Linked DNA regions of Homo sapiens. The protein of the gene in region 1 interacts with the protein of each later gene in a pairwise test. Each region holds a gene or a part of one and is shown on either strand. Other genes may lie near its edges.

Region 1 (3,742 bases):
CATCCCACCACCATCACACCCTGAAGGAGACATTATAGGTGCACAGTCCTGTGCCAGGCTCTCCAGGAAAACAAATGACCCCACAGTTGCCCTATTGAAAACACAGAGACCTGGTCCCCAGCCTCTGTCCCACAGCCTCCCACTGCACCCGTCCTCAGGGATACTGATCTGAAAGCAGCACTGGCACAGGGCCTCACTGGCACACAGCTAGCGCCAGGGGTGATGGGTGACAGCTGAAGGGGCTGCGGCCCACCCACGCACCTTGATGAGGAGGCCCAGCTCCTGGTCGCTCACACACGGATGGGCCCTCAGGAACTTCTCTCGGACCTCCCCCAGCTCCCTCTGGGCCTGCTGCTCGTGGGGCTGCTCCAGGGCCCGGAACACCAGGGCACCAGACACCAAGTAAAGCAAGACCAGCGCCAGCAGGGCCAGGAGCGTGGTGCTGCGCATGGCGCGCCCAGGCGCCGGGCCAGCTCCACTGCCCGCCTGGAGGGGCCGGGCGGGGGGCTCCTGGGGAGCTGTCGTCACTGCGGGCAAAACCAGGGATGCTGGGGTCACTGAGCTGGCCTGACACCCACACCCTCCTCCTCTATCCCCTACACACCCAAAGATCCATAAAGCCCCCAGCTGCACTGTCCACAGACATCCCTCTGGCTGGACACACCCAGTCCCCCTCCTATCTCCAGCCTTCCCCTTACCTCCGCTGCCCGGCCCTCAGCCCCTGTCTGGGACTACCGGGTGAGGAAAGAGAGGAGGGCACCGAGAAGGGAAAGGAAGGCGAGTGGGAGGCCGAAAGAGAGCCTAAGCCTGCCTAGGGGGAAGCGGGGCGAGCGAGGAAATGTGTGGAGCTTGGTGGGGGTGCGGGGAGCTGGCCCTCGAGGAGGAGGCTGAGGGGGCTCGGAGGCGTCCGAAGGGAAACCCGGAGGAGAGGCCGGACAGCGCAAGGCGGGGACAGGGGAATGGTGGGTCCCTGCTCGCCCGCTGCGGCTGTGACAGCATCTCCGCGGCTTCTCCGTCCCCTCTCGCCTCGCCCTGCTTCCTGGCTGGCCCTCCAGGGTGCCCCCGCGCCCCGCCGGGCTTTCGAGGAACCCAGGGGCGGGTCCCGGCCGCCGCACCCAGGCGAGGAGGGGTGCTGGGGACGCCCAGTTCCCGGAAAAAGCGGGGCGGGGGTCCGCAAAGGCCACACCGGGGCGACAGCCCCCGAGACAGCTGTCAGTCCGAGACAGCGGGCGGCGGCGCCCACGCGCACACACGCCCCGGCACGCGCCGCCAAGCGCGGGCACAAAGACCCGCGCGCCCACGCTCCATCCCGAGGCTGCAGCGCCGCGCCGCCCCGCTGCACGCACGCACCCCACCTGCACTCTCCGCAGACGCCCCGGCATCCCCGGCCCCCATGGGCGTGCCGGCCGCGCCAGGGCACCCAGAGCCCACGCACACGTGTGTGGACACTAGCGTGCACACGCCAGACAGCAGGGCCACCGCGCAGCGCCCGCAGCTCGCTCCCACCGCCTCCCCCGCGTCCGCACAGCGACGCCTCGGAGCGTGGCGGGCGGCGGGACCGGCGGCCACACCACTCCCGGAGGCGCCCACGCGCGAGAGGTGGGCACCCCGCCCGGCCAGTCGCCCCTGGGGCGTCCCTGCCCCTGAGTCCTGCCCGCGCACCGGAGCCCGCACCGCACTTACTGTCGGCCCCGCTGCGGCTGCGGCTGAGGCCCGGGTTCCAGCACGGCCTCGCCGGTGCCGACTGGGCCGCGGAGGCGGCAGGGGCGGAGCGGGCGGCCGCCGGGGCTGGGACCCCCCTCCCGCCGGCAGAAGCCCCCCTCCTCCCGCGGTTAACCCCTCCGGCGCCGCGCTTCCCTCCGTGCAGCGCCCTCGCCGCCGGCGCCGCCCCAAGCCGTTTACCTGCGGCCGCCTGGCTCCCCACAGCCGGCCAGCCCCGGGAGGTGGGTGGCAGAGGAGCCGGAGAGGGGTTGCAGCAGGGGCCAGCCTTCTAGCCTTGGACCGGAGCCCAGTGTGGCCAGCGGCAGGGCCCCGACCTGGGCATCAGCTGGCCCGTCTCTCCGGACAGGCACCACGCTAATCTGGCATCTCCCAGGCCCATTACCGGATCGGGAAGGGTCCGCAACTCTCCGCCCCTGGGGACAGCCTGGCCCTTGGGCTCAGCACTCATGAGGGAGGGGCTCCGCGGGACAAAGGGGTGGGGGAAACCCGGTGGGGCCACCTGGAATTGGCCGACGTGGAGGTTGGGACCCACCTCTGGGGGAGTTGCTGCTGGAGCACCTCCTGCCCCCACTCCAGGTTTTGGCCCTCTACCTGCTCCCCGGCTATCCCTCCAGGGTGCTCCCTGCCCCAGCTTTTGGTTCTCACTTCCATGCCCAGAAATCAGCCCCGGAAGGCTGTGGCTGAAGCTGCCTGCAGATCCCAGCATGGCACTGGTGCCAGCATCCACTCTCCCACTGCCTGAACACCCAGGCCCTGGCTGGTCCTGAACTTGCCCCGCCCTGTTCTCACCCACTTGACAACCTGTGACCTCTCCAAAGACCCTCTGGTGCCTGCTGGGGTCCTCAGCCCTCATGCTGGATGGCTTTCAGCCTGGGCTTTGAGGCTGACCACCCGCTACTGGTAGGGAACCTGAACAGGTTACCAAACTCTGGAGTCTCCCTGTTCCCACTTACAGAAAAGGGATGATTAATCATCACTTCGGGGTGCTGTTCTGGGCATTAAGGAGGCCAGTGTTTAGAAATCCTCAAAACAGAGCCTGGCACACACAATAAAGTGCCCCACAAACGTTAGCAGTTTTTATTTCAACAAAAAGTGATTGTCCAGCTTCAAGCTGATTCTCTATGAGTCTCAGATGCCCTCTCTGGAGGCCCTGAGGGCCTGGTGCCCAGGATGGTCCCAAGTAAAGGGTTTTGAAGCAGGCCCAGTGATAAGCCAAGGGAACTCTGAAAAGCTGGGACAACCACCTATGTGGGCAGGGGACAGACCCTCCAGCAAAGGACTCCTAGCCATCAGACAGACCTGCCAGGGCCATGGAAGCAGAGGGCAGTGACTATGCTACTAAGGACAGTGGAGAAGAGGGCTAACGGGAGGGCATAGCTAGGGGACCACCTGTACATCTGGGCAAACCCACGCCCTGGTAGGAAGATGGGGGCTGCTCAGTCACTGCGCCAACTCCCCAGCAAGCCCTGGACTAACTCCTGACTCCTAAAGACCAGGTTGGGGTGGTGATAGGGAAACAGGGCCTCCAGAAAGTCTAATCCATTGGGGTTAAGACTCAGAAGCTGCCAGGCATGGTACCTCATGCCTGTAATCCCAGCACTTTGGGAAGCTGAGGTGGGTGGATTGCTTGAGCCCGGGGGTTCGACACCAGCCTGGGCAACATGGTGAAACCCCACCTCTAAAATTAAAAATTAAAAAATTAGTCAGGAATGGTGGCATGTGCCTGTATTCCCAGCTACTCGGGAGGCTGAGGCAGGAGGATTGCTTGAGCCTGGTAGGTTGAGGCTGCAGTGGGCCATGATCGTGCCACTGCACTCCAGTCTGAGTGACAGAGTGAGACCCTGCTTCAAAAAACAAAACAAAACAAAGAACCTCAATGGCCACATAATCAGTAATGTGGAGCTGTGGGGCCCAGCAGAGGGGCCATGTCCCTTGACCAGGAGACAGAAGGCTTCCTAAAGGAGGTAACAGTTGACGCAGGTCTTGAGGAAAGAGTAGCAACTGTTCAAGTGGAGAGGGA
Region 2 (3,742 bases), on another chromosome or scaffold:
CAAGAGCCAAATAAGCCACTTGGTATTATGGGACAGGCATATAAAAAGGAAAAACGTGTCTTGTTTACAGAGATTCCAAACAATGAAGACGTGGCACAGCTTAAAAATAAACACTGAAGAGAAGCACCCTACTGGGCTCCACAGAACTGACCTTAAGGGAATTATGACCCTAAGGCTGTAGAAAAACTCACAGTATCAACAGCAGAACCTGCCAACTTCACCGCGAACAAAACGGGAGCCAATGCCCATTCCAATCATTTCCTCCTTACATGAAGAAACCCCAGCACCCTCCAAGGCCCAACCGATGATCCGCACGTCCTAGACAAGCCTTTGCGAGGCTCACATATGCACATGCAACATGGGCTGGGCTGTCTGGTAACCATGGGTACGGCTGGGCAGTCAATCACAAATTATCTTATTTGTGCCCTGTCTTCTCACCACAGCACAATGAGCTCTGCTTGACATAGTCTGAATTCAATCAACTACTAATAAGGGACAGCCTCTGGTGGAAAGCCTGAAAAAATTCAAGATACGCGCTTTTCCAAAACAAGAGGTATCTTATGAAACTTGCTGAAACAAGTCTACAAGAACAGACATCTCCTCCCCATGTACACAGCAAGTAGGAAAACAAGTGTGCATTAAGCAGGGAGTTTCACAACAGGGCTGTGTCTGTCTTCCTGGGTGACACTTCTGAGATGTCTATGCCGTATTTAAAATAGTGAAATAGTCACAGACACACATACACTAACAGCAACCCAAAGGGCCACTAAAGAGCCCTAGGCTCCAGGTAAACGAGTTGGCAACACCTGATTTAAAGGAAGGAGCTGGAATAATCTCTCAAGTTCCCCAGTGAACTTGTCTCCAGGACTGGGACAGGGGCCACCTTGGTCACTGCTGTATCCCTCGTGCTAACAGTAAGCAATGAATGCTCATTTAAAAAAAGACTGTATTTACTCCTTAAAAGGCACTGCTAAGGACCTTTCTCAGAACTGTATTTCAACCAAGTCATATGTGGCCCTACGGAAACCATGGAACACGGGGTATATAGCAAAGTTATGTGAATATACCGAAAAGACGTTCCCATCTGCCTTTCCCTCCTCTAAGTCCCTGAGTACACTAGGCTCAAATCTCATTCCATCAGCAGACAGATGACACGGATATCGAAGGCCCAGGCACAAGTTAAAGAGTATTTTCAATAACTGGTAACGCAGTAAGCTACTGCTACCTGTGGCCCAAACTCTAAACTTATATATTAAAGTCCTTTATTTAGAGCAGAAAAGCCGGCCTTGACCTCCACTGTCTCAGAACCGCGAGAAGGAGCCCCGGACGCCGCAGCGGAGGCAGCACGAGCACCCCTCCCGCCGAGCGCAAGAGCGGGCCCTTTCGGCTTCCGGGGTCACTGGAAGGCAAAATGTGTCACAAATACGGCCAGTACAAACCAACGCAACAAACTATTCCACAAAAAAACTGAAAACCAGCGCGGGGAGGTAAGGACACACTCTTCAGAAAAGCGAATCCGGGCTCTTCGCGCTTCCTGCAGCGCCAGCCGCCCCTGCAGTGCCGGAATCCCCCGAAGGCACGCCAGAAGCTAAGCCGGCCACCCCGACCGCACCCAAGGCCCGGGAGGAAGCGCCGAGGTCCCCGAGAATGCCTAGGGAAACCAGCTGCGCTTACAAGCCAGCTACGCAGCCCCCGAGCCCCGGGCCGCACTCGCCCAGGCCAGCCCTGCGCTCTTCCCCGCGAGCGGCCGCCCCGACTCCCACCCTCGGAACCGTTCCAGCCGCGACCACCGAGTGCTCGCCAGTCCCCTCGACCTCACGCAGCCCACCAGGGCCGGCGTCTGAGGCCCGCGCCCCAGGCCGCGGCGGCTCTGACCGGCCCCGCCCGCTCGCCCGCCCGCCCGCCCGCTCCTTCCCTTCCGCGGCCGCCATCTTCTCGGCGGGAGCGGCCTGTGCGGGATCCGCGGCTCTCGCCAGCCGGGCTCCGATGCCGGCCCCGCCCCGCTCCCGAGGGCGGCCCAAGCGGCGGCCGGCTCTTCTACCCGGCGCCCGGGACGCCACTTACCGCAGGCCGCAGGCCTCTAGGGTCTCGCAGCCATTTCCCCGAACGCCGCGGAGTGGGCGGACGGCCACCGAGATGGCGCGGGGCTAGAGCGGCGCCCCCGCGCGGCGGGCGGAGGACGAGACCGGCCACCGAGACGCTGCGGGGCTAGAGCGGAGCCCGGGCTGCGAAGCCCGGCCCCGGACTGCGCGCATGCGCCCGTCTTTCATACCTGCACTCCGGACGCGCCCTTCGGGTCTGCACTGACAATGACTTGCTTGCATCCTTTGTGGACACCTTATTTCCCCGACTCCAAGAGTGAAAGCTGGGGCAGTGCCCTTGCGGGGATCCCTCGGAACAGCCCGGGCAGGGCGCAGGCGGAACGTGGATGCTAGCCCCGAGGGACTGCACTCCGCCAGGATTTCGCTCTTAAGACCGATAAACCCTTCAAGTCGGTGGGGATAGAAAGCTCCTGGGCTAAATTTGTAAGAGGTGTAGGGGGGCGGGGACAGGGGATAAAAGAAGAAAAGGCCCAGGTTTTCTCTTCCAGATTGTGTTTCTCAAAACGCAGGCCCCTGACGGCCTCGGCTGGGAATGGCAGCGAGGGGCGAGGTCCAGGTGTGGGCGGGGTTTCTCTCCAACTTGAAGACCCTACCTGCTGCCTCCCCACCCCAAGCTCGGCTCCAGAAACCAGGAGCGTGGGGGTGGGGGGGAGAGAAAGGAGCACAGCGAGGAAGGGAGGCGGGCACGCTGGACCTCTAGGCCCCAGGGACCTTGGCGGTGTGGTCCCAAAGCTCTGCCTCCTCCCACCATGTCAATCCTACACTCAGAACTACTGACCAGTAGCTAGAACTCAAAGAACGCATGGACATGTTTGCCCACAGGGGTTGGAGGGAAAGATTAGACACTTACTATCAAGAGAGGGGAAAGTGAGGTATGGTAGATGTCAACCTTCCATGTGGATTTTCTTCAGTTCGCTCAATAGTAACTAGAGTGACACTCTATCACCTGTCTGTCCCCAGATACTGCAGGAAAGAGACTGGGAGGGGGCAGGAGGGGCAGCTGTTGCCTCGAGGCACCATGGGCACTGGCCACTTGCTCCGAGGGCAGGGACCTGGGGGGGGTGGAGGTGGCCCCATTACTTGTTTCTGCTTCTGTGAACAGTGATACGCTACCTGGAAGCATGGACCATCTAGCCTTTGGCGTTGGCCCTGGCCAAGAGTAAAAGGGGCCCAGAGTGCCGTAAAGCTGCCCCTAATACAGAGGCTTCTGCGATGCTTCCATGGATGAACCAGGGGCTTTGAGGCAGGTGTGCTTTTTAATAATACCGCTGAAGATTACAGGGTCTGCTAGTTTCTGAGGCAGACTTAGTTTTCTTCAAAGGAATACAACGCAGCTTGTTTTTGCTGGTGTGGCCCATTAGGACCACATTAATAGAATCTGGCAGGGATGGGCTTGACAGTCTTCCATCTTGAGTGTGATCTCAGGTTGCAAAGAGGGCTTTTTGCTCTCAGACATGGGGTAGTGGGAAGCTTAGAAGACAGACGGGGTTGAGACCACCTTTAACAAGCAGTGAGATCTTGGGCAAGCTCTCTGTTAAAGGAGGGCTCACATGCTGAGGCCCAGGTGAAGACCACATGAGGCCTCCCTACAAGAGGCTCTCTCTAAATCCAACTGGTATGGGGGAACCTCAGCCCAGTCT

What was found. Proteins that work in one complex are often made in the same cells at the same time.
Region 2: the proteins of KCNK4 (region 1) and DIDO1 interact in a two-hybrid assay, tested with the Homo sapiens proteins (one large-scale study listed by BioGRID and IntAct).

What each region holds. Positions count from the first base shown.
Region 1 is NC_000011.10:64,289,727-64,293,468, reverse strand, and holds the start of KCNK4 (potassium channel subfamily K member 4), read right to left. Parts: upstream 2,168-3,742; 5' UTR 1,903-2,167; intron 1,748-1,902; exon of another isoform or gene 1,684-1,747; intron 1,472-1,683; exon of another isoform or gene 1,351-1,471; intron 528-1,350; 5' UTR 451-527; coding exon 262-450; intron 1-261. UniProt on the Homo sapiens protein: K(+) channel that conducts voltage-dependent outward rectifying currents upon membrane depolarization. Voltage sensing is coupled to K(+) electrochemical gradient in an 'ion flux gating' mode where outward but not inward ion flow opens the gate.
Region 2 is NC_000020.11:62,924,368-62,928,109, forward strand, and holds the start of DIDO1 (death-inducer obliterator 1), read right to left. Parts: upstream 2,139-3,742; 5' UTR 2,072-2,138; exon of another isoform or gene 2,065-2,071; intron 1-2,064. UniProt on the Homo sapiens protein: Putative transcription factor, weakly pro-apoptotic when overexpressed. Tumor suppressor. Required for early embryonic stem cell development.